Linked DNA regions of Homo sapiens: all the other regions are linked to region 4. Evidence: fine-mapped expression QTL. A gene starts in region 4. Each other region holds a variant in brackets. All regions are shown on one strand. Distances are between the middles of the regions. Region 1 overlaps FCGBP (Fc gamma binding protein). Region 2 overlaps FCGBP (Fc gamma binding protein). Region 3 has its middle 11 kb from the start of MIR6719. Region 4 holds the start of FCGBP (Fc gamma binding protein).

Evidence for each region. PIP is the estimated chance that this variant, and not a neighbour inherited with it, causes the effect.
Region 1: its variant is fine-mapped to the expression of FCGBP in fetal neocortex (Walker 2019, PIP 0.95).
Region 2: its variant is the best candidate, but not a certain one, in a credible set for the expression of FCGBP in NK cells (Schmiedel 2018, PIP 0.89).
Region 3: its variant is the best candidate, but not a certain one, in a credible set for the expression of FCGBP in whole blood (INTERVAL, PIP 0.61).

The regions. Positions count from the first base shown.
Region 1 is chr19:39,886,321-39,893,763 of GRCh38, reverse strand. It overlaps FCGBP (Fc gamma binding protein), which reads left to right. Exons shown (of 36, transcript NM_003890.3): 21 at 237-853; 22 at 1,578-2,121; 23 at 3,693-4,285; 24 at 7,179-7,443. Among named protein-coding and RNA genes, the nearest start is that of FBL, 44 kb to the right of the region's middle. The variant A/C (reference allele first, on the strand shown) is at 3,589.
Region 2 is chr19:39,868,421-39,875,863 of GRCh38, reverse strand. It overlaps FCGBP (Fc gamma binding protein), which reads left to right. Exons shown (of 36, transcript NM_003890.3): 30 at 1-476; 31 at 2,069-2,640; 32 at 3,213-3,786; 33 at 5,449-5,648. Among named protein-coding and RNA genes, the nearest start is that of FBL, 26 kb to the right of the region's middle. The variant G/C (reference allele first, on the strand shown) is at 4,012.
Region 3 is chr19:39,815,094-39,822,536 of GRCh38, reverse strand. No RefSeq gene overlaps it. Among named protein-coding and RNA genes, the nearest start is that of MIR6719, 11 kb to the left of the region's middle. The variant C/G (reference allele first, on the strand shown) is at 3,066.
Region 4 is chr19:39,931,290-39,938,732 of GRCh38, reverse strand. FCGBP (Fc gamma binding protein) reads left to right here and starts at 4,099. Exons shown (of 36, transcript NM_003890.3): 1 at 4,099-4,169. The coding sequence starts at 4,115.

The sequences.
Region 1 (7,443 bases), 45 kb after region 4:
CTCTATCTGTCTGTTTCTCATTCTCTAGCTCCCTCAGTTTCTGCTTGGGTCTCCTGGTGTCTCGCCCTCTCCCATTTCTTTCTCTGTGTCCTCTCTCTGTGTCTTGTTTTCTGTCTCCCCCTTTCTCTGTCTGCTCCCTAGTGTCTCTCTCTGTCTCCTCCCACCCTGTTCTGGGACCCCACCCCTAACACCCTTCTTTCTGTTTCTCTCCTTCCTGCTCCTTCATCTGCCCACAGAGATCACCTGCCCAGAAAACAGCCACTATGAGGTCTGTGGCCCACCCTGCCCGGCCAGCTGTCCGTCCCCTGCACCCCTTACGACGCCAGCCGTATGTGAGGGCCCCTGTGTGGAGGGCTGCCAGTGCGACGCGGGTTTCGTGTTAAGTGCTGACCGCTGTGTTCCCCTCAACAACGGCTGCGGCTGCTGGGCCAATGGCACCTACCACGAGGCGGGCAGTGAGTTTTGGGCTGATGGCACCTGCTCCCAGTGGTGTCGCTGCGGGCCTGGGGGTGGCTCGCTGGTCTGCACACCTGCCAGCTGTGGGCTGGGTGAAGTGTGTGGCCTCCTGCCATCCGGCCAGCACGGCTGCCAGCCCGTCAGCACAGCTGAGTGCCAGGCGTGGGGTGACCCCCATTACGTCACTCTGGATGGGCACCGATTCGATTTCCAAGGCACCTGCGAGTACCTGCTGAGTGCACCCTGCCACGGACCACCCTTGGGGGCTGAGAACTTCACTGTCACTGTAGCCAATGAGCACCGGGGCAGCCAGGCTGTCAGCTACACCCGCAGTGTCACCCTGCAAATCTACAACCACAGCCTGACACTGAGTGCCCGCTGGCCCCGGAAGCTACAGGTGAGGAGGGCTGTGGGCCAGACAGGAGCAAGTGCCAGCTCTGGGGTTGCCTGAGATGGTAAGGGCTTCACCATTCCCCTGGGCCCCTTTCACAGCTTAGCTGGGGCATGATGGAAGGGTCAGAGTGTACGCCTAGGAGCCTGATGGCTTGGCACAGCAGCTTCTTCCTCTGTGAGCCTAGTGTATTCCTCTGTAAACTGGTCTAGGAAAAGTACCTGTTTTCGAGAAGGATAAGGAGTCAGTGACATGAGCCAGTAGAGGCTCTTTGTTTTTCTTTTCTTTTTTTCTTTCTTGCTTTTCTTTCTTTCTTTCTTTCTTTTCTTAGCCTGACTCTGTTGCCCAGGCTGGAGCGCAGTGACAGGATTAGGGCTCACTGCAGCCTGGAACTCGTGGGCTGAATCGATCCTCCCGCCTTGGCCTCCACCTCCCAAGTATCTGTGACTAAAGGCACACGCCACCACGCTGGCTAATTTTTCATTTTTTTGTAGAGATGGGGGTCTCACTATGTTGCCCAGGCTGATCTGAACTTCTGGCGTCAAGCGATCCTCCCATCTCGGCCTTCCAAAGTCCTGGGATTGCAGGCTTTGCCACCAGGCCCGGCCTATAGATGCTCATTATTATTTTCAGCGGGAGGTGACATGCTCTGGGTCCCACAGCTAGTAGGTAGTGGGGCCAGGATTCAAACCCGTGTTTGCTCCGTTCACCGCTCCCCCACTGCCCACAGGTGGACGGCGTGTTCGTCACTCTGCCCTTCCAGCTGGACTCGCTCCTGCACGCACACCTGAGCGGCGCCGACGTGGTGGTGACCACAACCTCAGGGCTCTCGCTGGCTTTCGATGGGGACAGCTTCGTGCGCCTGCGCGTGCCGGCGGCGTACGCGGGCTCTCTCTGTGGCTTATGCGGGAACTACAACCAGGACCCCGCAGACGACCTGAAGGCGGTGGGCGGGAAGCCCGCCGGATGGCAGGTGGGCGGCGCCCAGGGCTGCGGGGAATGTGTGTCCAAGCCATGCCCGTCGCCGTGCACCCCAGAGCAGCAAGAGTCCTTCGGCGGCCCGGACGCCTGCGGCGTGATCTCCGCCACCGACGGCCCGCTGGCGCCCTGCCACGGCCTTGTGCCGCCCGCGCAGTACTTCCAGGGCTGCTTGCTGGACGCCTGCCAAGTTCAGGGCCATCCTGGAGGCCTCTGTCCTGCAGTGGCCACCTACGTGGCAGCCTGTCAGGCCGCTGGGGCCCAGCTCCGCGAGTGGAGGCGGCCGGACTTCTGTCGTGAGTACTGCTCCATGCATGGTCCACATGGTTGGGTCTCTCCCTGCCCTTCCCAGGACTGTAGGACAGCAGCCCCTTCCTCCTCCATGGGGCTCAGGGGCCACTTTCCTTCCCGAGCTCGGTATCTACTGTCAGGAAACACCTTGGCACTGACACACTGAAATGCCCCAAGTCAGGTACTGCAGTGAGAGAGAGTCAGTTAGAAACACCTAGTCAGAGTGTGGGCGCGGTGGCTCACGCCTGTAATCCCAGCAATTTGGGAGGCCGAGGCGGGCGGATCACCTGAGGTCAGGAGGTCGAGACTAGCCCGGCCAACATGGTGAAACCCCACCTCTACTAAAACTACAAAAATTATCCGGGCGTGGTGGCGGGCACCTGTAATCTCAGCTACTCAGGAGGCTGAGGCAGGAGAATCACTTGAACCCAGGAGGCAGAGGTTGCAGTGAGCCGAGATCGTGCCACTGCCCTTCAGCCTGGGTGACAGAGATTCCATCTCCAAAACAAAAAACAAACAAACAACAAACAACAGAAAAAAAAAAAGAAAGAAAAGAAACCTGGGGTCCAGGACACTCTTAGGGATTGGTGATCCATGCTTTCAGGTATCCAAGGCATGTAGATTGGGATGGCTGACCCTGCCTCTGTCACATAGCAAAGTACCCCTTGTTAGGAAGACCTAGTGAGTTTCAGCTGGTCAGAGGGCCCAGGTCTGTTGCACACACTGAAATACACCTAGTCACATGGAATTAGTCGCATACCTTCAGTGATATCTGCTTAAATTTTATACTGACTGGTCAGATACACTCAGAAAGAAACAGGATCCTGGCATAGCCTTGGGCAGATCCACACAGATGCATAGTTAGATAGTCCTAGGCGGTTCCCTTCAGGCAGGTCTCCTGGTCACAGGTATCCTGCCAACTTCACCCAGGCACAGCCTTAGGCAGACCATGTCAGAAGGACTCTGGGAGATGCTGCATGTCAGACACCCACAGCTGGGTGCCCTCAGGCAGAGCCATACCCTGAGATACATGTGGCCCCACACCCCAGTCACATTCACACGCTGAGATGCCCATAGTCAGTTCTGATCCTGCATACCCCGAATAGATATAAGTGATCCATTTCACCCAGGTAAGCCTGGCTTACATAGTGAGACCCCATCTCTACAGAAAATAATAATAAATCAGCCAGATGTGGTGGCTTACTCCTGTAGTCCCAGCTAATCGGGAGGCTGAGGCCAGAGGATTGCTTGAGGTTTAGGTGGAGGCTGCAGCGAGCTGTGATTGCGCCTCTGCACTCCAGCCTGGGTGAGATAGAGTGAGAGCCTGTCTCAAAAAAAAAAAAAAAAAAAATATCAGCCAAGCAGAGTCATTTGATCTTCAGAAATATTTGGTCAGAGAGACCTGGGCATGTCCCCTCCCATTCCAGGTCCCACGCTGAGTCCCCCAGTTAGATGTCCTGGATCACATGTGC[A/C]TGCCCAGAGACGCCCAAGTTGGCCTGAGCAGTTTTCCCACTCAGGGCCTCCCAAGACTGCGACTCAAACACCTACCTGGCTGATGCCCACCTTGTCCCCACAGCCTTCCAGTGCCCTGCCCACAGCCACTACGAGCTCTGCGGTGACTCCTGTCCTGGGAGCTGCCCGAGCCTGTCGGCACCCGAGGGCTGTGAGTCGGCCTGCCGTGAAGGCTGTGTCTGCGATGCTGGCTTCGTGCTCAGTGGTGACACGTGTGTACCTGTGGGCCAGTGTGGCTGCCTCCACGATGACCGCTACTACCCACTGGGCCAGACCTTCTACCCTGGCCCTGGGTGTGATTCCCTTTGCCGCTGCCGGGAGGGCGGTGAGGTGTCCTGTGAGCCCTCCAGCTGCGGCCCGCATGAGACCTGCCGGCCATCCGGTGGCAGCTTGGGCTGCGTGGCCGTGGGCTCTACCACCTGCCAGGCGTCGGGAGATCCCCACTACACCACCTTCGATGGCCACCGCTTCGACTTCATGGGCACCTGCGTGTATGTGCTGGCTCAGACCTGCGGCACCCGGCCTGGCCTGCATCGGTTTGCCGTCCTGCAGGAGAACGTGGCCTGGGGTAATGGGCGAGTCAGTGTGACCAGGGTGATCACGGTCCAGGTGGCAAACTTCACCCTGCGGCTGGAGCAGAGACAGTGGAAGGTCACGGTGAGAGCAGATGGGGAGCAGGGGGCGAGGGGCCTGTGGGTAGGTGGGGCACAGGCAGCGCTCAGCCCAGGAGTTGGGGGCACAAGAGATGAGAGTGCATGTGCGAGGCCTGGGGTCTCTGAGGACAGAAGATGCCAGTCAGAACCGAGTGGGAAGCCAATGAGGGAGGTGTCATCAGGGACTTGGGAGCTGCTCCCCCATCTCTGTCCCTCAGTCTCCACCCTCTCTTTACCTCCATGCATTGACTTTTCTCTCCAAATTTCTCCCACCCTCTCCTCCCTCCCACTCCATCCTCTCTCCACCTCAGTCCTGGATTCTGCCCTACTCACCTCCCTAGTCTGCCACTTATTGGCAGGACGTGGTGCCATCAGAGGTTGAGAAAGTCCGAGTTTGAGAAGCTTCATGGACAGAGGACAATCTGTGGGTGACACTCTCACCGCCTTAACAACAACAACAGCAGCTATAGTTTCTATACAGCTGACTGCACACCTTTTGGCTGCCAGGCACTTCACGTCCATGGTGTCTGTATGCTTGCAACAGGGACTGCAGGCACTATGACTTGCTTTATTTTTCAGAGTGGGATGGCCCATCACTGGCCCATAGTCCCCCAGCAAAGGTGGAGCTTGAACCCCGTGCTGCTCTGCAGTGCTTTTCTTACTGAGAAGATTTGGTCTCATGTGGAGACTGGCATCTGAGTTACAGTGGAGGGGTTTCCCCTGAGATCCCACTGAAACAGACACGCAGCTGTTTTTCTAGTGGCAGTATTGGCGAAGGTGCTGATCAATTACTGACTTAATCTGGCGAACTGGACAGGCGTGACTTTTTTTTTTTTTTTTTTGGCACAGAGTCTGGCTTTGTCACCCAGGCTGGAGTGCAGTGGCGCGATCTCGGCTCACTGCAACCTCTGCCTCCCTGGTTCAAGTGATTCTCCTGCCTCAGCCTCCAGAGTAGCTGGGATTACAGGTGTGCAACACTATGCCCAGGAAATTTTTGTATTTTTAGTGGGGACGGGTTTCACCATGTTGGCCAGTCTGGTCTCCAACTCCTGAGCTCAGTGATCTGCCGGCCTCAGCCTCCCAAAGTGCTGGGAATAGAGGCATGAGCCACTGTGCCCGGCCGACATGCAGGACTTAATTGAATATATTCCCTAATGTTTCCCAAGCTCCTAGAATAGCCCCTGACATACAGCGCCTAAATACACAGGAGTTGTTGATGTTCTTGTTAGTTGCTTCTTACTGAAACCCCCAGCTTCCCTACAGATGTGGGAGCTCTTATTACCCCGCAGTTTACAGCTGAGGAAACTGAGGCAAGGCTAAGTCAGTTGCCCTTACCCACCGCCCAGCCCTGCTTGGGAAGTGTGGCAGTTGACCATCTTTTTAGGAGACTCAGCCAGGAGCATGTCTTTCTCCTGCCTTCTCCTCTGATTCTTCACATTTCCAAAAGAATCCGGTGTGCACTGTCTGTGATAAGGAAGGGTAAGAAAGCATGTTAATCAGGGGTTGATGTATTTATTTATTTTTTAGAGACAGGGTCTTGCTCTATCACCAAGGCTGGAGTGCAGTGGTGTGATCCTAGCTCACTGCAGCCTCAAACTCCTGCTCTCAAGCAATCCTACCACTTCAGCCTCCTGAGTGGCTGGGAGTACAGGCATGCACCACCATGCCCAGTTAATTTGTTTTCTTTTTTATTTTGTAGAGACAGGATCTCGATATATTGCTTAGGCTGACCTTGAACTCCTGGGCTCAAGTGATCTTCCCGCCTTGGCCTCTCAAAGTGCTGGGATTATAGACATGAGCCACTGTGCCCTGTCCAGGGGTGGATTTACCAGGCTTTGTTGGAGCCTAGTAAATCTTTAACTGAAACCACTGGTCCTCAGCTCATAGGTTTAAGTTCATTTCCCCAAGAATTTAGCCTAACTTTCCACTCGCTGATGCTTTAAAGCAAAAACCTGTGGTTCTGTTTACTCTTCAGAAGAAAAACTTCCACTCATAGCTGCTAATAACAGCAAATGCTCCTGAAGCATGCATGCTATGCCAGCCACGTTTCTCAGCACTTTACAGATACTAATTTATGTGATCCTGACAACAGTTCCATGGGGCAAACGCCTTATTCCCACTTGATAGATGAGGAAACAGAAACAGGGAGAGGTGACTCACTTGCCCAAGGTCACAAAGAGGGTAAGGGGGAAACTGTTTGAACTCGGGCAAGTGGCTCCGGGGGCGATCATTGCTTATTAATGGCTGCAGCAAGCGGTAAACAAAGGATAGCTGGAGGCTTGTTACTTCATCGAGACCTGTATTCGTTTCCCATGGCTGCCATAACAAATTACCACGAGCTTGGTGGCTTAAAACACTAGAAATGTATGTTCCACAGTCCTGGGTGCCAGAAGTTCAACATCAAGGTGTGGGCAGGGCTGCACCCCCTCCAAAGACACTGGTTGGGGGATCTTCCTTTCCCTTTCCAGCTCTGCAGACTCCAGGTTCTCTGGGCTTGTGACAACACCATTCTAATCCCTGCCTTCATCTTCATGTGGCCTTTTCTGTGTGTCTCTTTGCCTTTTTCTTTCTGGCTCTTATAAGGATACTAGTCATTGGATTTAAGGCCCAATTTAATCCAGGATAATCTCATGTTGAGATTATTACCCTGATTACATCTGCAAAGAACTTTATTCCGAGTAAGCTCACGCTATGGGATTCTGTGTGAATATGTCTTTTGGGGACCACCATTCAATCTACTATCAGGCCCTGTTATTATATCCATTTAATAAATAGGAAACTGAGGGCCTAAGAGGTGAGGTCACAAAGATCAGCATCAGGCATGGGCTTGAACTAGGGTCCCACCCTCACTCAAAGTATACTTTCTGAAGCGTGGCCTGCCTCTCTTCCCCTCCCAGGTGAACGGTGTGGACATGAAGCTGCCCGTGGTGCTGGCCAACGGCCAGATCCGTGCCTCCCAGCATGGTTCAGATGTTGTGATTGAGACCGACTTCGGCCTGCGTGTGGCCTACGACCTTGTGTACTATGTGCGGGTCACCGTCCCTGGAAACTACTACCAGCTGATGTGTGGCCTGTGTGGGAACTACAACGGCGACCCCAAGGATGACTTCCAGAAGCCCAATGGCTCGCAGGCAGGCAACGCCAATGAGTTCGGCAACTCCT
Region 2 (7,443 bases), 63 kb after region 4:
CGACGTGGTGGTGACCACAACCTCAGGGCTCTCGCTGGCTTTCGATGGGGACAGCTTCGTGCGCCTGCGCGTGCCGGCGGCGTACGCGGCCTCTCTCTGTGGCTTATGCGGGAACTACAACCAGGACCCCGCAGACGACCTCAAGGCTGTGGGCGGGAAGCCCGCTGGATGGCAGGTGGGCGGGGCCCAGGGCTGCGGGGAATGTGTGTCCAAGCCATGCCCGTCGCCGTGCACCCCAGAGCAGCAGGAGTCCTTCGGCGGCCCGGACGCCTGCGGCGTGATCTCCGCCACCGACGGCCCGCTGGCACCCTGCCACGGCCTTGTGCCGCCCGCGCAGTACTTCCAGGGCTGCTTGCTGGACGCCTGCCAAGTTCAGGGCCATCCTGGAGGCCTCTGTCCTGCAGTGGCTACCTACGTGGCAGCCTGTCAGGCCGCTGGGGCCCAGCTCGGCGAGTGGAGGCGGCCGGACTTCTGTCGTGAGTACTGCTCCATGCATGGTCCACATGGTTGGGTCTCTCCCTGCCCTTCCCAGGACTGTAGGACAGCAGCCCCTTCCTCCTCCATGGGGCTCAGGGGCCACTTTCCTTCCTCTGAGCTTGGTATCTCCTGTCACCAAACACCTTGGCACTCACACACTGAAATGCCCCAAGAAAGGTACTGCAGTGAGAGAGAGTTAGAAACACCTAGTCAGAGTGTGGGCGTGGTGGCTCACGCCTGTAATCCCAGCACTTTGGGAGGCCGAGGCAGGTGGATCACCTGAGGTCAGGAAGTTGAGACTAGCCCGGCCAACATGGTGAAATCCCTGTCCCTACTAAAAATACAAGATTTATCTGGGCGTGGTGGTGGGCACCTGTAATCCCAGCTAATCAGGAGGCTGAGGCACTTGAACCCAGGAGGCAGAGGTTGCAGTGAGCCATGATGTGACACTGCATTCCAGCCTGGGCAACAGAGTGAGACACCATCTCAAAAAAAAAAAAAGAAAGAAAGAAAAGAAACACCTAGTCAGAAACCTGGGGTCCAGGACACTGTTGAGGATTGGTGATCCATGCTCTCAGATATCCAAGGCATGTAGATTGGGATGGCTGACTCTGCCTCAGTCACACAGCAAGGTACCCCTGGTTAGGAAGACCTAGTGAGTTACAGCTGGTCAGAGGCCCTTGGTCTGTTGCACACACTGAAATACACCTAGTCACATAGAATAAGTCACATACCTTCAGTGGTATCTGCTCAGATTTTGTACTGAGACTAACTGGTTAGATACACTCAGATAGAATCAGGACTCTTACATAGCCCTGGGCAGATCCACACAGATGCATGGTTAGATAGTCCTAGGCGGTTCCCTTCAGGCAGGTCTCCTGGTCACAGGTATCCTGCCAACTTCACCCAGGCACACCCTTAGGCAGACCATGTCAGAAGGACTCTGGGAGATGCTGCATGTCAGACACCCACAGCTGGGTGCCCTCAGGCAGAGCCATACCCTGAGATACATGTGGCCCCACACCCCAGTCACATTCACACGCTGAGGTACCCATAGTCAGTTCTGATCTTGCATACCCCGAATAGATATAAGTGATCCATTTCACCCAGGTAAGCCTGGCTTACATAGTGAGACCCCATCTCTACAGAAAACTACTAATAAATTAGCCAGATGTGGTGGCTCATACCTGTAGTCCCAGATACTCGGGGGGCTGAGGCAGGATGATCGCTTGAGCCCAGGAGGTGGAGGCTGCAGTAAGCGCGCCTCTGCACTCCAGCCTGGGTGAGATAGAGTGAGACCCTGTCTCAAAAAAATAAAAAATAAATAAATAAATAAATAAATAAAAATCAGGCAAGCAGAGTCATTTGATCTTCAGAAATATTTGGTCAGGCTAACACATAACCTGGTCAGAGAGACCAGGGCATGTCCCCTCCCATTCCAGGTCCCACACTGAGTCCCCCAGTTAGATGTCCTGGATCACATGTGCATACACAGAGACACTCAAGTTGGCCTGAGCAGTTTTCCCACTCAGGGCCTCCCAAGACCCCGACTCGAACACCTACCTGGCTCATGCCCACCTTGTCCCCACAGCCTTGCAGTGCCCTGCCCACAGCCACTATGAGCTCTGCGGTGACTCCTGCCCTGTGAGCTGCCCGAGCCTCTCAGCACCCGAGGGCTGTGAGTCGGCCTGCCGTGAAGGCTGTGTCTGCGATGCTGGCTTCGTACTCAGTGGTGACACCTGCGTACCCGTGGGCCAGTGTGGCTGCCTCCATGATGGCCGCTACTACCCACTGGGCGAGGTCTTCTACCCGGGCCCTGAGTGTGAGCGGCGCTGTGAGTGTGGGCCAGGTGGCCATGTCACCTGCCAGGAGGGCGCAGCCTGTGGGCCCCATGAGGAGTGCCGGTTAGAGGATGGTGTCCAGGCCTGTCATGCCACAGGCTGTGGCCGCTGCCTGGCCAACGGGGGCATCCACTACATCACCCTTGATGGCCGTGTCTACGACCTGCATGGCTCCTGCTCCTATGTCTTGGCCCAAGTCTGCCACCCAAAGCCTGGGGACGAGGACTTTTCCATCGTGCTTGAGAAGAATGCAGCTGGAGATCTCCAACGCCTCCTGGTTACTGTGGCTGGCCAGGTTGTGAGCCTAGCTCAGGGGCAGCAGGTGAGTCCATGTGAGCCTGCCCTGGGGGTCTGAAGGCAACACAGCCCCATCTAGGGGGTTCTGAGGGAGACACGACCCCACCCTGTAGGTATGAGAGGGACATTCCTCTAACATGGGAACTCTGGTACCTACCCTGGAAGGTTTGGTGAATGGTCCCACCGTGGGAGATTTTTGTGTTGTTTTGTGACAGGGTCTTGTTCTGTCACCCAGGCTGGAGTATATTGGCGTGATCACAGCTCACTGCAGGCTCAACCTGCTGGGCTCAAGCAATCCTCCCACCTCAGCCCCCCATGCCTAGCTAATTTTTTATTTTTGGTAGAGATGAGGTCTTGCTGTCACGGCCAGGCTGGTCTCGAACTCCTGGGCTCAAGTGATCCACCTGTCTGGGCCTCCCAAAGTGCTGGGATTATAGGTGTGAGTCACCACGCCAGGCCTGGGGCCCAAGAAGTTTAAGGGAAACATGACCTGACGTTAATGGGACTGAGGGAGATGCAGCTCTGGCCTGGGAGTGGGACAGGACAGCCTTGCCTGTGGTTCTGTGAGTTCCTGACCTACCCGACCCTTCCACCCAGGTCACCGTGGACGGCGAGGCTGTGGCCCTGCCTGTGGCTGTGGGCCGCGTGCGGGTGACCGCCGAGGGCCGAAACATGGTTCTGCAGACGACCAAGGGGCTGCGGCTTCTCTTTGATGGCGATGCCCACCTCCTCATGTCCATCCCCAGCCCCTTCCGTGGACGGCTCTGTGGCCTCTGTGGGAACTTCAATGGCAACTGGAGTGACGACTTTGTCCTGCCCAATGGCTCAGCAGCGTCCAGTGTGGAGACCTTCGGGGCTGCATGGCGGGCGCCCGGCTCCTCCAAGGGCTGTGGCGAGGGCTGCGGGCCCCAAGGCTGCCCAGTGTGCTTGGCAGAGGAGACTGCACCCTATGAGAGCAACGAGGCCTGCGGGCAGCTCCGGAACCCCCAGGGCCCCTTCGCGACCTGCCAGGCGGTGCTGAGTCCCTCTGAGTACTTCCGCCAATGCGTATACGACCTGTGCGCGCAAAAGGGTGACAAAGCCTTCCTGTGCCGCAGCCTGGCAGCCTACACGGCGGCCTGTCAGGCAGCTGGCGTGGCCGTGAAGCCCTGGAGGACAGACAGCTTCTGCCGTGAGTGTCCGTGGGTCCCTCGCAGGACTCTAGACCAGGTGTAGGGGCCCCTCCTGGCCCATTCCTTCTATTTGCATGTCGGAGTGGTTTCTCCCTGTAAAAGCGCTCCCTCCCCACCCCCTCCCACCCCACACCCACACAACTTCTTCTCCCACGGCATAGTCCACTGGCTTCCCTGCTATCCCTCTGACTGTTCCTTCTCAGCCTCCTGTCTGGGCCCACTCT[G/C]CTCAAACCTCAAATTCTCTTCTTCCCTAGTGTTCTATTCTGGACTCTTTCTGCAGTGACCTGAAAGGGAGAGTTGGATGGGTTGGGAGATCTGTGGCTCACACAGACCCTCCTTCTACCCCCGACAAGACCATATCCCCTCAGATCCCCCCAAGACAAGGCTGCAGGCTATTAAACACCCCGCTAAACTAGGACTGTACCTCTCATTCAATTCCCCATGGGAGGGACATCACCAGAGACTCTCAGGAAAAAGCAATGGCCCCTTCGGCTCCAGGTCAGAGCCAGGTCTCCCCTGGGCAGGACCTATACCCAGGGCGGTCATCCACACCCGCGGCCTTAGATTTGTTCTCATTGTTGACCATGGACCTGGTCTGTCTGTCTCAAGCCCTGAACTCTCTCCTGACTGTCAGCCCAGTGATCCTGATTTCTGACTTCTGGCCTTCAGAACTGTGGGAGAATGAATTTCCCCTGTTTAAGCTACAAAGTCTGTGGTAATTGTTAGGGTGTCCAAGACACCTTCCCCTGGGTGTCCTTACCGTCCCTCTTACCTGCTGTGTTCCCAAATAAAATCAGCATTTCACCCCCAGCCTGATGCTCCTTCCCCAAACCTGGTGGGCATTGCAGAACAGCCACACCTCCACCAATTGCTTAGCCAGAGACCAGGGACTTACCACAGATAATTCCCTTGGGTCCATATAGCCCCTGTCCCAACTCTGACCCCTCTGCCTGTGCCCCCCTATCCCAGCCCTGACCCCTTTGCCTGTGCCCCCCACACCCTGGCCCTGACCCCTCTGCCTGTGCCCCCTACCCAGCCCTGACCCCTCTGCCTGTGCCCCCTACCCCGGCCCTCAACCCTCTGTGTGTACCCTCCCCATCCCGGCCCTGACCCCTCTGCCTTTGCCCCCCCACCCCAGCCCTGACCCCTTTGCTTGTGCCCCCAACCCCAGCCCTCAACCCTCTGTTTGTGCCCTCCCCATCCTGGCGCTGACCCCTCTGCCTGTGTGCCCCCACTCTGGCCCCGACCTCTTTGCCTGTGCCCCCGACCCTGGTCCTGACCCCTCTGCCTGTGCCCCCTACCCTGGCCCTCAACCCTCTGTCTGTGCCCTCCCCATCCCAGCCCTGACCCTTCTGTCTGTAGCCCCCTACCCTGGCCCTGACCCCTCTGCCTTTGCCCCCTCATGCCTGCCCTGACCCCTCTGCCTGTGCCTCCCCACCCTGACCCTGACCTCTCTGTCTACACTCCCTGATGCAGCATGTTCACTTTGGGCTCTTCCTGTCTGTCCCACTGGAAGTGAGCTCTGTAGGACTGGGGTTGAGACTTTTCTCAGTATTTGTGTCCTCAGCACCGCCTAAAACAGGGCTGGGTGTGCAGTAGGCCCCCTTGGTTATCCAGGACCCTTTGGAGGTGTGACTCAGCCCTGCCTCCTCTCTCTGCAGCGCTCCATTGCCCCGCCCACAGCCACTACTCCATCTGCACTCGCACCTGCCAGGGATCCTGTGCGGCTCTCTCCGGCCTCACGGGCTGCACCACCCGCTGTTTTGAGGGCTGTGAGTGCGACGACCGCTTCCTGCTTTCCCAGGGTGTCTGCATCCCTGTCCAAGATTGTGGCTGCACCCATAATGGCCGATACTTGCCGGTGAGTAGGGGCTTGGGGTGGGCAGAGAGGGTAGAAGAGCTTGAGAGAGACCCAGAGATTCTGTGCTGACCTCTTCAAGGCTGGGGACAGAGGAGGTACCGCCATATCCCAGCTATGTGACTTGATGCAGGCAACCTCCCCCTATTAGTCTCCTGCAGCTTCTGTAACCAATTACCGCAGACATGGTAGCTTAAACAGGAGAAATTCATTCTCCCACAGTTCTGAAGGCCAAAAGTCAGAAATCAGGAATACTGGGCTGACATCAAGGTGTTGGCAAGGTGGCACTCCCTCCAGAGAAATCTAGGGGAGGCCATGCCCAGTGGCTCATACTTGCAGTCCCAGCCCTTTGGGAGGCCAAGGCGGGAGGATCACTTGAGCCCAGGAATTCAAAACCAGCTTGGGCAACATACAATTGTTTTTTTAATTAGCTGGGCATGGTGGTGCACACCTATAGTCCCAGCTACTCAAGAGGCTGAGGTGGGACAATGGCGTGACCCCAGGAGTTGGAGGCTGCAGTGAGCTATGATCACGCTGCCGCACTCCAGCCTGGGTGACAGAGCAAGACCTTACCTCTAAAGAAAAAAGGAAAAGAGCCAGGCACGGTGGCTCACACCTGTAATCCCAGCACTTTGGGAGACTGAGGCGGGCGGATCACGAGGTCAGAAGTTCAAGACCAGCCTGACCAACATGGTGAAACCCTGTCTCTACTAAAAATACAAAAATTAGCCGGGCATGGTGGTGCGTGCATGTAATCCCAGCTACTCAGGAGGCTGAGGCAGGAGAATCACTTGAACCCAGGAGGCGGAGGTGGCAGTGAGCCGAGATTGCGCCACTACACTCCAGCCTGGGTGACAGACCGAGACTCCATGTCAAAAAAAAAAAAAAAAGAAAAGAAAAGAAAAGAAAAAAGAAATCTAGGGGAAAATCTGTTTGTTGCCTCTTCCAGTTGCTGGTTGCTGCAGGTTTTCCTTGGTTGTGGCCACATCACACCAACCTCTGCCTCCTCTTCTGAGTGTGTCATAACACCTCCCTCTGCTTCTCTCTTATAAGGATACACGTGATTGCATCTAAGGCTCACTCAGATAATCCAGGAGAAATTTTCCATCTTCAGATCCTTAATTCAATCACATCTGCAAACACACTTTTCCCATATAAGGTGACATTTACTCATTACAGGGATTAGGACCTGATATCTTGGGGCGGGGGCATCATTTGGCCCCTCCTTGAACTGCATTTTCTTCACCTGTAAAATGGGACTAATCACCATCTTTGTACCATAGGTATCTGAGGATCAGGCCCGATTATACAGGAAAGATACCCACTGAGCACTGGGCCTTGCCCTGCATGTTCATCACACTCAGTAAAAAGAAAGAGCAGTTTACAGCGGGGCGCAGTGGCTCACACCTGTAATCCCAGCACTTTAGGAGGCCAAGGCGGGCGGATCAAAAGGTCAGGAGTTCGAGACCAGCCTGGCCAATATGGTGAAACCCCGTCTCTACTAAAAATACAAAAATTAGCTGGGTGTGGTGGTGGACACCTGTAGTCCTAGCTACTCGGGAGGCTGAGGAAGGAGAATCCCGTGAACCCGGGAAGTGGAAGTTGCAGCGAGCCGAGATTGTGCCACAGCACTGTAGCATGAGCAACAGACCGAGACTCCATGTCAAAAAGAAAAAAAAAGAAATAGCAGTTTACAACAGTGCAAATAGGTAGCCCAGCTAATAATTGTTTAATAATATGAATTAAATTGAAGAATTGATTTATTCTTGTTAATAATTTTTTTGAGCTCTTACTATGC
Region 3 (7,443 bases), 120 kb after region 4:
CACCCTTCTAAATTTGTGACTTATAGTCACATCTATCTTTGCTTCTTTAACTTTATCCTTAGCATTAATCATATTACTGTTTAACACTCTGTAGAATTTATCTGTGTTTATGGTCTGTCTCCCCTGACCCTTACCTCTAGGAGACTGTTGACTTCATCAGGGAAGGGGCTTTTGTCTACTTCCTCCGTTATCTCCAACACATAGAAAAGTGCTTGGCACACAGTTAGGGCTCAGTAACTACTTATCAAATAAACTATTGAAGAGCACATATCTGGATCCCAGCATGGCGGGGACTCTGCCGATCCCCTTTCTACAGAACTCCAAGGAGCTGCCTTAAAGTTTTCTGAGGGCTCAAGATATTCAACAAGTATTTCACCTTGCCTCTTCTTTCTCCTCAGCATTGGGAACACAGAAGAGAACAAAATATTCCCCTACCCCTATAGAACCTACAGTAATAGGGACAGTAATTTAGACTATCAAATAATCACACGTGTGAAATTACCAAGAAAGGTAGAGAGTGTTATAAGAATACTTGATAGGAAATCAAATCCGGATCCTAGGAAATGAGGTTTGAGGTGATGAAGGAGTAGGCATTAACTCCTTTAAGAGATAAGAGTTTGGGATGGTTGGAGCCTAGAGGCTGATGCAGAGCAAGAGGTCAGACCTTGTGTATGCCATAAGGAGTTTGGGTGTTTACCCCACATGTAGTGGGAAGTTGTAGAATTTTAAGCTGGGGACAGGAGCGTGGTCAGGTGTTTGTGTGTGTGTGTATGTGTGTGTGTGTGTTTCCTTCTAAAATTCTTCACACTAAAGTGTACTTTAAAAGACTCCTCTGGCTTCTGTGTGGGGAATTGACTATAAGGCATTAAGGATTAAAGTAGGGAGACCAGTGACAAGGCTGTTACTGTGGAATTAAAATAGCTGTGATTGAAGACAGCCACACATTCTTTGCTGTTTTTCCTATCAAGAGGTGGAGTCTCCTTCCTTCTCCTTATATCTGAGCTGGCCCTGAGATTTGTTTTGACCAATAGAATACAATGAAAGCAGGCTGGGTGCGGTGGCTCATGCCTGTAATCCCAGCACTTTGGGAGGCTGAGGCAGGTGAATCACTTGAGGAAAGGAGTTCGAGACCAGCCTGACCAACATGGAGAAACCCTATCTCTACTAAAAATACAAAAAAAAAAAAAAAAATAGCCAGGTGTGGTGCACTCCTGTAGTCCCACCTACTCTGGAGGCTGAGGCAGGAGAATCACTTGAACCCGGGAGGTGGAGGTTGCAGTGAACCAAGATCATACCACTGCACTCCAGCCTGGGTGACAGAGTGAGACTCTTTCTCAAAAAAAAAAAAAAAAAAATACAATGAAGATGATGCTGTACTAAATGGAGGCCTAGGCTTTAAGAGACCTGGCAGATTCTGCTTCTACTCTTGGAGCCCTGCCCTTTCTATAGATCTGCCCCAGCCCGCGGCTGTTCCAACTTTTAGCTGATGTGCAGGCGTGCAAGTGATGCCATCTTGGGATGGCCTAACTCCCATTCCAGTTGACACCATGTGGAGTAGGAATGAACCATCTCAAATCCCCTGACCCTTTGAGCCTTGTCCAAATTGCAGAATCATGAGCAAAGAAATGGTTGCTATTTTATGCCCCTGTGGCTTAGGATGCTTTGTTACACAGCAATAGCTAACTGAAACAAGCTAATATTTTTTTAAGATCTTACCATTTTATGTATTAGCTCATTTAATCCTCAGTCACCGTATGTGGTACTACTACTGTTCCCATTTTACAAACGAGGAAATGAAGGCACACAGAAGCTAATAAAGTACTAGTAAAGCGCCTGGCACAAAGCACTGAATATGTGATAGCTATTATTATCAGCATCATGTTCATCAGCATTACAATTTTCACAATTGTTGAAGAAGTGGCGGTCAGATGAATAAACACATTAGTAACCCACTTCCACTTCTTTTTCTTCTTCTTCTTCTTCTTTTTTTTTGTTTTTAAACAGGGCCTGACTCTGTCACCCTGGCTGGAGTCACTGCAGCCTAGACCTCTTGGGCTCAGGTGATCCTCCTGCCTCAGTCTCCTGAGTACTTGGGACCACAAGCATGCACCACCACACCTGGCTAATTTTTGTATTTTTTGTAGAGATGGGGTTTCACCATGTTTCCTAGAGTGCTCTCGAACTCCTGGGCTCAAGTGATCCACCAACCTTGGCCTCCCAAAGTGCTGAGATTACAGGCGTGAGCCACTGCGTCCAGCCAACCCACTTCTTAGTGATGTGATTTTAGCCATTTTCTTGGAAGGACTAGTAGAGAGATGGAAAGACATCGAGTCTTTGGTGATGTTGTTGAAGTGCTGGATCAGGCCTCACTTGGAGTGAGTTACCTCTAGACTTTCTCATTAGGGAATTCAACATATCTCTATCGTTTAAGCCAACTATATTGTTGAATTGAGTTTTCTATTACTTAGAATCAACAATATCCTAACTGATTCCAGGGTTTTCTTATTTGTTGAGTCATCAGATCTGGCTATTTACTACATGCCAAGCATTTTTAGGTGCTGGTATTATTAATAGTAGCAAACAAGACCCCCGAAAGCCCTGTCCTCCTGGAGCCTGCATTCCAGTGGGCAAGATGAATGCTAATATTAGTGAACAGAGCTGTAGAAGTTGAGGGTTGGAAGACTAGAGAGTGGGAAGAGGTGCTATTTTAGATAGAGGGGTTAAAGAAGACCTCTTTGAGAAAAACGTTAATGGACCTCACAGAAAGGGAGGACACCAGCTGGCTGTATGTATATTCTGGGAAGAAGGACATTCCAGGTAGAAAAAACCAGCAAATTCAAAGGCCCCGAGGCATGCTTGGTGTGCTGGAGGAGCAGAAAGGAGTGAACTGGACCTGACTGGACACAGTGGGAGGGAAGGAGACCAAGGCAAGGTCAGGTGGGACCGGGAGGCCATGGGAAGGACTTGAATTTGAAGCTGATGAGATGTGTGGCAGGGAGAGCATGGTGAGCTGAGGCGATGTGATCTACCACGGTAAGAGGGTTCCTCTGGCTCCCATGTGGCTA[C/G]TAGGGTGGAAGCAGGATGCCAGTGAGGAGGCCACTGTGCAGTCCAGCTGAGATGATAGTGGCTTGGCCAGGGTGCTAACGGGGCGGTGGGGAGATGTGGTCAGATTTTGCATATAATTTGAAGGGAGAATCAGGTATGTAGGGTAAGAAAGAAGAGTCAAGGACCACACTATGGCGTTTAGTCTGCACAGAGGAAGGAGGGAGTGCCATTAACTGTATGGACAAGACTGAGAGAGAGTGTGGGCGTGTTTAGCCTCTGACTGGACCCACTGGCCAAACAGGAGCTTATACAAGACTGGCATTGAAGGGTGAGATCTGGGCTGGGAGTAGTTGGCATATTTATGGTATTAAAGCCCAGGATGGGATCACTAAGGGAGGGTGTATAGATGGAAGTGTGGGCTGAGAATGAGAGCAGGGAGGCCCGTGAGGAGGTTGCTGCAATAATCTAGGTGAGATGACAGTGGCCTGTACCAGGGCAGGGGCAGAATGAGTAGTCATTGGAGTCTGGGTGCATTTTGAAGGCAGAACTCACTGTGATTGGTTGTGGGTAGTGATGGAAAGAACCTGACAAGGGCTTCATGAGAACAGAATAGAAGCAGAAGTGAGACAGTGGTGTGACATTCCTCCTTTCCACTGGGCCCTGTGGTCTCTGCTTCTCTTTGCATTGGCTGCTTCCTGTTCTCAGGCAGCTGGGTTGGTCCTGGGTGGACTCTTGCCCCCACTCTATGTGATCTTCCAGCTCAGTTACCCGCAGCCCCTCAGTCTTCATTCCGAATTTCCCAGATAGGAATGGGATTTCCAGGGTCGGGTATCCAACCCTGCTCAACTCACTGGAGCTGGAGGGTTCCTATAGTGATGACTGTCTGCTCAGAAGGGCTGTGGACTGGGCAGGCCCCCCAAACATTCACAGTCACCATGTGTTTCTGACACTTGGTGTACAGGGCGGACATGTGGGTGGGCAGGTGTGGCAGGGGTTGGAGATGATTTGACCCTCTTTTGGCTGATGGGTGAGACAGACCATTTATATTGCCTCAGATGTGTCCTGGATTGAGCAAACAGGAAAGGGGATACCAGGAAGGTGGATCTGGCAGGCCTTGGGCTGTGAAGCGTTAAGGGTCAGTTGGGAGGATTCAGGCGCAGCTTCTGCCTGTTCATGGGTATTCCCAGAGGAGTCAGGGAGACACGCATTACTCTCAACTCAAGAGAGACACAGCAATGGCTGAGACACAGCAATGGCTGAGACAGCCTCCACCTTGCCCTCGCAAAGCTCACAGTCCAGTGGGGAAGACAACCCCAACGGCAGACAGTGACCAGGGCTGGGATGGGGAGGCAGAGGGGTTGGGGCCAGGATAGGGGAGCCACAGGGGGACTGTGGGAGCCAGAGGCAGCTCCTGACCCAGTCTGTGGTGTCAGGTGGGACTTCCTGGCGTGGGGAGCATGTAAGATGAGATCTGAAGGATGAGTCAAACAAAGCGTGCTTTGGAACTCCGCGGGGGACCACCTCGAGCCATATTGCAGAGGAGACTTAAAGTTTTGTGAACGTTTTAAAATTTAATAATTTTAGATTTACAGACAAGTTGCAAAGATGATACAGGGACTTCCCTATACCTACACCCAACTTCCACCTAGTGTTAGCATCTTACATAATTATTGTATATTTGTCAAAACTGAGAAATTAACATGGATTAATATTCTGTTAAACTCCAGACTTGAATCCTATTTCTCCTGTTTTTCCATTAATGTCCTTTTTCTGTTCCAGGATCCAATCCAGGATACCATGTTGCATTTGTTGGTCATTTCTCGTTGGCCTCCTCCAATCTGTGACAATTTCTCAGTCCTTCCTTGTTTTTCATGACCTTGACAGTTCTGAGGAGTACTGGTGAGATGTTTTTGTAGAATGGCCCTCAGTCTGAGGTTGTCTGACATTTTGCTCGTGGTTAGACTGGGATTTTAGGCTTTGGGAAGAATGCTCACTGAGGTGAGGTTAACCTGATCACTTCATGAAAGTGGTGTCTGCAGATTTCCCAACGATAATACCACTATTTTCCCTTTACTCATTTGTTAGAAGCAAGTCACTAAATCCAGCCCACACTCAGAGGAGAGCTAAGCCTGATTCCTGGAGGGAAATAGGGAGATACTTGGAGGCTGCACAAATATCCCATTTCTCCTTCAAGTTTACCCACACATTTTAGCATTCATCAGTGGACCCGGTCTGTAGCAGTTATTACCGTGATATTATAATGATGACTTTCTGTTTCCCTCATTTCTTTACATTTACTATTTAGAATTCCATATGGAAGATTTGTCCCTTCTATCATACTTCACTTATTTTATTTATACAATCATTAGTTTATTTCCGTGTGGACTCATGAATATTTATTAGTTGGGCATACCCCAACATTATTGTAATCAATTTTTTTTTTGCTCAAGTTGTTTTAGCCTTGGCCATCAGCGTTTATCTTTCAGGTTGGCTCCTGTGTTCTTTACTCTTTTTTTTTTCTCCAACACCTTCTTACTTTCTGGCACTGCAAGATATTCCAGGCTCATGTATTCTCCCTGCACCAGCCCTAGAATTAGCTCTTCCTCTAGAGTCACTGGTTCTTTTCATTGGAGAATGGTGTGTAAAAATAAGCATGAGTTCATACTGATACTCTGACACTAGTCTAGTACCAGAGGGTTCATTCTCACCATCCCCCCCTTGCTTTCTTTATAACTCCTTCCTCTGCCAGTGAGAAGCCTGGCTCAGTGGGCTCTTTTTGGTGCTCATCTTATTGGTCATCTTGGCAAAAATCGGCTGTGGTGACCCTGCCTGCCTTCTGTGAGCACACCCTCCCCTTAGTTTCTGTGAGTCTGCTATCCCCTGACATTTCCTCTACGTTTTGCTTCCTTGCGGGCTCCTCTGTTTTCACCAGTCTGTTAAATGTGGTGGGGCTATGTTCTCTCTTCTCACCTTGGGGCCACCTTACCCTCTTTCATGGTCTGTTTCCTATCTCTGTGCAGATGACACACTCTGTCCTTAGCCCTGACCTCTACTCTGAGCCCTAGACCTGGAGGATCCGGAGGCCTCATGGACAATCCCCCAATCCCAACTGGGCAATCCTTGGGCCCTTAACACTCACCATGTCCCAGATTCCAAACATGCTCTCTCAGCCTTTGTCTCAGGGGTGGCCCCTCCAGGCTCCAGGTTCTCAGAGGGAGCCATGGGCCTCATTCTGAATGCCTCCCTCCCATCCCTGCCCCCCGTCCAGCCCATCAGCTTCCAGGGCTTGTCCTCTGGGACTGCTGGACATCTCTCACATCTTCTCCCTTCTCCCATTTTCCACTCTGCCTTGGTCCAACCCGGTCCTCTCCCACCTTGTCTCTGCCTGTCCTCCTCCCTGGGCTCTTGGCCTCCCATCTCACCATTTAACGCAATTAAACCTGTTGTAGGGGGAAAAGTAAACAGGAAAATAAATCACATTATGTGTCAGCTTAAGATGAAAACAACTTTCAGGAATCACTTTATTACTTTAAAAAATCTACAGCAGTAGGAAGAAAACTGAGGCTCATTTCTCTTTACACTAGGGTTGTCACACCAGAGTGAAATTTTAAGGATCACTTGTAAGCTTCCTTTTGAGTCACATTGATTAAGAGAATCTTCTATATTAATTATCACAATTATCCTTATAAACATGACTTACAAGGTATCTAAAAAATGTCTCACAAGCATTTAGAACAACTGAATTGTATAAAAGGATTTTGTATGTGCAAGAGGGAAGTTAACTAGATTATTAATACTGGCATTGGGAGAATTCTTCCACTCTGATATCAGTGGCTGTTGGCACAGTGAGTTCAGTAAAGAGACTATTAGTGGGCTGGGAACGGTGGCTCATGCCTGTAATCCTAGCACTTTGGGAGGCCGAGGCAGGCGGATTGCTTGAGCTCAGGAGTTTGAGACCAGCCTGGGCAACATGGTGAAACCCCGTCTCTACTAAAATACAAAAGAAATTAGCCGGGCATGGTGGCGTGCACCTGTAGTCCCAGCTACTCAGGAGGCTGAGGCAGGAGAATTGCTTGAACTCGGGAGGTCAAGGTTGTAGTGAGCCGAGATCGCACCACTGCACTCCAGCACTCCAGCCTGGGTGACAGCAAGACTCTGTCTCTACAAAAAAAAAAAAAAAAAAAAAAGAAAGAGAGACTATTAGCGGATGTGCTTTGGGACATTTTGCAGTTCTAAGCCTGGCTAGCATAGGCTTTCACAGTAACTGCCCACATTTGTATGGTGCCTTCTTCATGCCAGGCACTCTTCTAAACCCCCAGCTTGCATACATCCAGTAATCCTCACATACCCCTTAGGAGGTAGCTACTGTTATTATCCCAGGTTTTCAGTGAGGCATTT
Region 4 (7,443 bases):
ATAAATAAATAAATATATATATAATTTTAAATATAAATTTTTAAAAGGAAGGAAGTACTATATTAATACGAAAATACTTTCCTTCAGAGCGAAAAACATTGCTAAAAACAAAGGATCATTCTGCCAAGACATTGCAATCCTAAGGTATATGTACCAAACAACAGAGATTCAAGTACATGAAGCAAAAACTGATAGAGCTGAAAGGTGAAATAGACAAGTCCACAAATATAGTTGGAGAATTAAAAACGTCAGTCTCACCAAATTGATAGAACTACCAGGATAAAATATGTGAGAATATCAAAGAACTGAATAACAGCATCAATCAACAGGATCTAATTGATATTTATAGAATGCTCTATTCAACAATAGACAAATCCACAAATACATTTGGGAAATTCAAAGACTTGCTCTTGTTAGCAACAACAACAACAACAAAGAAGTAGTTCTTTCGTTTCATTGATTTTCTCATGTTCAGTTTTATTAATTTCTGCTCTTCATTATTTCCTTTCTTCTGCGTTGTGTTTGTTTTGGTCTTTTACTACTTTATTGTGTAAGAAGAGCTTAGAATATTGGTTTAAGAACTTTCCTCTTTCCTAATGTAAATATTTAATGCCATAAATTTCCCTTTAGCTATATCCCACATATTTTGAAATATCTTCTTTTCATTTTCATTTAATTCTATGTATTTTTGATACTTCCTCTTTGGCCCATGGATTATTTAGAAGTGAGTTGCTCAATATCCTTGTGAGTGGAGATTTTCCTGTTTTTCTGTTATTCATTTCAAGCTGATTCCATTATGGTCAGAGAACATCTCCTATAGAATTTCAATTATTATAGGCAGAGAGGAAGTGTGAATGTCAAATGTTAGAGGGAAGGAACTAGAGGCAAGTGGCAAATAATGGGTCATTGGAGAGTTTAACAAAACGTTCAGTGCTTATGGAAGTCGGATTGTGGGATCCAGAGCGTAAAGGAATTAAGTTAGAAATTGCCCGCAAGCCTGAATTTAGCTGGAGAGAGTAAATTCTCTTCCACTGTGCTCCAGTCTATAAAGCCAAGACTAGTCAGAGGGGCCCAGGGGTCTGGGATGGTATAGCCAGTGCCCATGCTGCAAGGAGACGGAAGCAGATAAGCAGGAAGAGGCCGAAAGGCTCAGGTACACAAATACCCTTGTTTGGGCTCAGAGCAAGGCTGCCAGTGGAGGGATGGATGCGATTTCTCTGACCATAAGGAAGTGTCCCCAGAGTTTATTTCCCGGGTCACCAAAGGGTTTCCTGAGAATTGATATAATACAGGGTAAAGCACAGGGGTGTACACACACACATACACACACACACACACACACACCCACACACACACCCACACACACACCACTTGGGCCTTAAAAGGAGTGAGAAAGAAGACCCAAGGGGATTGGCACATACAGAGTATTAATTTGTGAGATCTCCCACCACAACCACCCCATTTCTGGGGACTCTGGCTGTGGAGAGCGATGATGAATTTTGAAGGCAGGAAGCTTCTTTCTGTGATCAACCAGGGGAAACCCCAAGGCTTAGAGAGAATTGAGGGCCAGAAACACCCATGAAACTCACCCTGATTCTTTCCCTTCACCTCCCATTTGTCTCTGAGTGCCTCTAATTACAAGAGGCATATGGCACACAGAGGATTTTATTTTCTTTTTTCTTTTTCTCCCCAGGCCAGAATGCAGTGGCATGATCACGGCTCGCTGCAGCCTCAGACTCCTAGGATCAAGCAATCCTCCCACCTTAGCCTCCTGAATGGTGGAGACTACAGGTGCATGCCACCACACTCGGTTTATTTTTATATTTTTTGTAGAGAAAGGGTCTCACTATGTTGCCCAGGCTGGTCTTGACCTTGTGGCCTCAAGTGATCCTCCTGCCTCAGCCTCCCAAGTAGCTGGGACTACAAGCGTGCACCACCGTGCCTGGCTAATTTTTGTATTTTTTTGTAGATACAGGGTCTCACTATGTTGGTCTTGAACCAGGCTGGTCTCAAACTCATGGCCTTAAGCAATCCTCCTGCCTCAGCCTCCCAAAATGCTGGAATTATAAGCTGAGCCACTGCGCCTGGCCTCAGACAGAGAATTTTCACATCTTGGTTTGCAATTGCTGTTTCCTCCTAGGAATCCCGACGTCTCCTCCTCCGAGTCCTTCTCTGTCTCAGGGACCCAGCAGCCCCTTCCACCAACTTTTAGACCCCTCAGGGACCCAGGCATCCTTTTCCCAAAGCTTCCACTTCCTGTGGGTCCCCTGCCCCTGCTTGTTTCTTGTTATCTCTGGCTTTTAGCCAGTCTCCTATTTACTCACCTCATTCTCCTGGTTGACTTTATGTCCCAGTCAACTCTTAGCCTTTATCTTTCCCTCCAGGAACGTTTCTTGGGTGGGCGTGGGGATTGGTTGGAGCTCCAGGGAGAGAGAAGCCCCCCACCCGCTCTGGCCTCCCAGAGGCCCAGGCTGCTGTGATAAGAGAGGAGGAGCCCCAGGGGCAGCAGCTGCTAGGGTGTTGGTCCAAGAGAGCACCCAGGCTTTGCAGCTGCTGGTCCCAGGGGAGACTCCCCCAGCAAACAATGAGATCCTGAGTCAGGGAGAAGGCAGGCAGGGCATGGGTCAGGCCAGCCCCTCAGAGGAGCTGACTCCAGCTGAGAAAGCCCAACTTTCAGCTCATTCTTCTGCTCCTTGTGTGCAACCTAGACCTCCACCTCCCATCTCAGGCAAATTCTGGGGTGATGGAGAGGCACAGAGTCCCCTAAACCTGTTCAGCTAGCCCCTGCTAAGAGCAAACCCTCCCTACACACAAAAAAACTCCAAAACCAACAGGTCCTGGCTCTTCCTCAGTCCTCACAGGCTGGGGAGTCCCTGGCCACCTATATCCTGTTTCCAGCACCACTGAGGAGCAGGTGTCTGGGATCAGAAGTAGAATCTGGGTGTCTGTGTGGAACCAGGAAACAGAGGCCATTGTCCCTTCTTCACACACCGCCTCAGTCCCAGTGCCCACCTGCAGCCTGGCCTGCGCCCACACCAGAGGAGGCTGCCCCCCAGCTCTACAGTCCTTGAGAATTTTTTTACATCTCTGGGACGTAAAGATGCCCAGAGAGGCTGGTTTTGGTGTTCCCATTTTGCAGATGAGAAACCGCAGACGCCCCACTGGGCTGCGGTGGAGGTCTTGTGTCCCACTCCATAGCCTCAGACTCCTGCCCATCCCAGACACCTGCCCCTAGTGGTGTCTGGAAGCAGGATGTGGGTGGCTAGGGACTCCCCAGCCTGTGGGGACTGAGAAGGAACCAGGACCCGGATATGGGTCCCTCACTGTTGTTCCTGGCAGGAGCCAAAGGAAGGAACCTAGCCACTAAGCCAGCAAATATGACCACATGCCACCTCCCACCCTCACTGCCCACACCCCCACCCTACCCCACCTCCACCCAGGGACCCAGGTGCTCATCTGCCTGCTCCCCAGCTGTCTCCCTCAGGGACCCCACCCTTCCAGGACCAAACTCTCCAGAAGGCTTCCAGGGAATGGCCACCAGCTGTCCTCACTCCCTTCTTGGAACCCAGGCATCCAGAATCACTGTCCCTCCTTCCCAGGCCTTCACAGTTTCCCATTTCATCTGGCCATGAGGATGGCAGCCTCCTCCAGGAAGTTGGCATCATCTGCCTGGCACGTGGCCCAGGGTGTGGCCCAGAAACTCCACTATATAGCCCTGCCACAGGGCTGGCCCTGCAGCTCCAGGGACCTGCAGGTGAGAAGGGCTGGGGTCCCCTTTGGAAGTGGGACAGCAGGTCCCCTACTCTTGCCCCTGACTGTAGGCCTCCTCATCCTACCCCTAGACCCACAAGACAGCCAACTCTCCACCCCGTCCCTGGCTTCTGCCCTCCCCAACCCACCTCCAGACCCGCTGGACAGCCAGCCTCCCCTATACACACACACTGGTCCTTGGATCCATACCCCCTGGCCCAATCTGCCCGACTTCTTTCCCCACCTCAGCCTTCATGGTCCCAGGTGGCCCTTGTCATGAGAGTGGGCCCTTCTGCCCAGGACAGTCTCCAGCAGAGGCGGTGGATCAGCCTTCTATGATCCTTTCTCTTTTCCTACTGCAGCCATGGGTGCCCTATGGAGCTGGTGGATACTCTGGGCTGGAGCAACCCTCCTGTGGGGTAAGTCAGACCAAGACCCTCTCCATGTCCTTGTTCCAATCTGGGGAACTCTGCGTGGGTCCACGCCTTCCATGTGTGCCTCCTCCACATGTCACCCCAGGCTAGCTGAGACAGGAGAGAGGCCCTTAGGCTCTGCAGGGGGATGTGGTAGAATTCACCAATTCTCACCCTTTTCTGGATGGGAGCACAGGCAAAAACCTTAGTCCCCAAACTCAAGTGTGCAAGAACTTTCTTGGTTTTCTGCAACTCAACTAAGGTTTTGACTCTGAGCCTCATTCTGCTAAGTTGATGGAAAATTTCACGAAAGTCATTCTTGGAGGGTGTTGTCCCCACTTCTCCCAGGGATGTGTCCAGAACTAAAATTTTGGATAAAGCCAAAGTACTGGGGGGAGGATGGGATATGAGGACCCTCTCGTCACCAGTCAGCATCCATCTAGGTTACTTTTGAAATGTCCATTGTTCCTGATCCCCTGGCCCCCTGGGATATCCTTCAAAGCCCCCTTTATATGGAAGGTGGTCATTCCATAGCCCCCACACTCTCTTCAAGATTCCTTAGACCTCTCTCTCCTCAGCCCCAGGGACGCTCTTCCTAGTTGGGGGTGGTCAGAAGCCCCCACTGCCATCTATTTCTAGGAGACAATTCATTCACCCTTCCATAATCCCCTTCTTCTCTTTATCCCCTTTTCACAAACCCCCAAGTCCCATTATTATTATTATTATTATTATTATTATTATTATTATTTGAGATGGAGTTTCACTCTTGTTGCCTAGACTGGAGTGCAATGGTGTGATCTCAGCTAATTGCAACCTCCACCTCCTGGGTTCAAGCGATTCTCCTGCCTCAGCCTCCCTAGTAGCTGGGATTACAGGCGCCCCATGCCACCATGTCCGGCTAATTTTGCATTTTTAGTAGAGATGGAATTTCACCACGTTGGTCAGTCTGCTCATGAACTCCCGACCTCAAGTGATCCACCCGCGTTGGCTTCCCAAAGTGCTGGGATTACAGGCAAGAGCCACCGCGCCTGGCCCCCACAAGTCCTATTAAGACAAAAACCAGCTGGGTACAGTTGGTCACGTCTGTAATCCCAGCACTTCGGGAGGCTGATGCAGGAGGATCACTTGAGCCCAGGAGTTCAAGACCAGCTTGGGCAACAAAGTGAGACCCTGCCTCTAGAAAAAAATTAAAAAATGAGCCAGGCACACAGTGCGTGCCTGTGGTCCCAGCTATACCAGAAGCTGAGACAGGAGGATCCCTTGAGCCCAGGAGGTTGAGGCTGCAGTGTGTTGTGTTTAAGCCACTGCACTCCAGTTTGTAAAAAGATGGAAATCATACACTGGCAGCAGAGTACATCCACCTTGAGCCCCAAAGTGCTTAAAACAATTGTGGGTTGGAGATTTCACATGAAAATTCAGATAGCCACATTCTCTTTAAAAACAGAAAGAACGGCCAGGCGTGGTGGCTTACGCCTGTAATCCCAGCACTTTGGGAGACCGAGGCAGGTGGATCACCTGAGGTCAGGAATTTGAGACCAGCCTGGCCAACAGGGTGAAACCCCATCTCTACTAAAAATACAGAAATTAGCTGGGCGTGGAAACCGGGAGGCAGAGGTTGCAGTGACCCAGGATCGCGCCACTGCACTCCAGCCTGGGTAACAGAGTGAGACTCCATTTCAAAAGAAAAAAAAGAAAAAATACAAAAGTTAACTGTGCCTGGTGGCGCACACCTGTAGTCCCAGTACTCGGGAGGCTGAGGTGGTAGAATCACTCGAACCTGAGAGGCAGAGGTTGTGGTGAGCCGAGATCGTGCCACTGCACTCCAGCCTGGGTGACAGAGCGAGACTCCATCTCAGAAGAAAAAAAAAAAGAAAAACAGGAAGGTCTTACAATTTAAAAAAGCTCACATTCTTTCATTATAACAGGTGAAAGCTAGTACCAACAATCCACTTTTTTTTTTTTTACTAGTTTATATATTTTTAAAATTTTTAATTTTTATGGGTTTGCATTTATGGGGTACCTGTGATATTTTGATACAGGCATACAGTGTGTAATGATAAAATCAGGGTAACTAGGGCATCCCTCACTTCAAGCATTTGTCATTTCTTTGTGTTAGGAACATTCCAATTCCACTCTCAGTTATTTTAAAATATACCATAAATTATCGTCAACAATAGTCATCCTGTTCTGCTACCAAATACTAGATTTTATCTATTTTATCTAACTGTTTAACTGTATTTTTGTACCCATTAACCATATCTACTTATCCCCCAGTCCCCGCTACACTTTCCAGCCTGTGGTAATCATCGTAACCATCATTTTACTCTCTATTTCTATGAGTTCATCAGTTAAAAATTTTAAATTCCCATCTATGAGTGAGAACATGTGAAATTTGTCTTTCTATACTGGCTTATTTCACTTAACATCATGTCCTCCAGTTCCATCCATGTTGTTGCAAATGACAGGATCTCATTCCTTTTTTTTTTTTTTTTTTGAGACCGAGTCTCACTCTGTTGCCCAGGCTGGAGTACAGTGGCGCGATCTTGGCTCACTGCAACCTCCGCCTCCCAGGTTCAAGTGATTCTCGTGCCTCAGCCTCCCGAGTAGCTGGGATTACAGGTACATGCCACCATTCCTGGCTAATTTTTGTAGTTTTGGTAGAGACAGGGTTTCACCATGTTGGCCAGGCTCGTCTTGAACTCCTGACCTCAAGTGATCCACCTGCCTTGGCCTCCCAAAGTGCTGGGATTATAGGTGTGAGCCACTGTGCCGGGTGATCTCATTCTTTTTTATGGTGGATAATTCTCCATTGTTTGTATGTACCAAATTTCCTTTATCCACTCATCTGTTGATGGACACTTAGGTTGATTCCGTATCTTGGCTATTAGGAATAGTGCTGCAATAAACATGGGAGAGCAGATGTCTCTTACATATACTGACTTCCTGACTTGGAAGGAAAGGAATTGCTGGATCATACAGTAGTTCTAGTTTTAGTTTTCTGAGAAACCTTCATATTATTATCGATAGTGATTGTACTGATTTACATTCCCACCAACAGGGTAACAGGGTTCCCTTTTCTCCACATGCTCAGCAGCATTCATTACTGCCTTTCATTAGGATAAAAGCCATTTTAACTCGAGTGAGATGATATCTCACTGTGGTTTTAATTTGTGTTTCTCTGATGATTAGTGATGTTGAGCATTTTTTGATATACCTGCTGGCCATGTGTATGTCTTCTTTGAGAAATGTCTATTCAGATCTTTTGCCCATTTTAAAATCA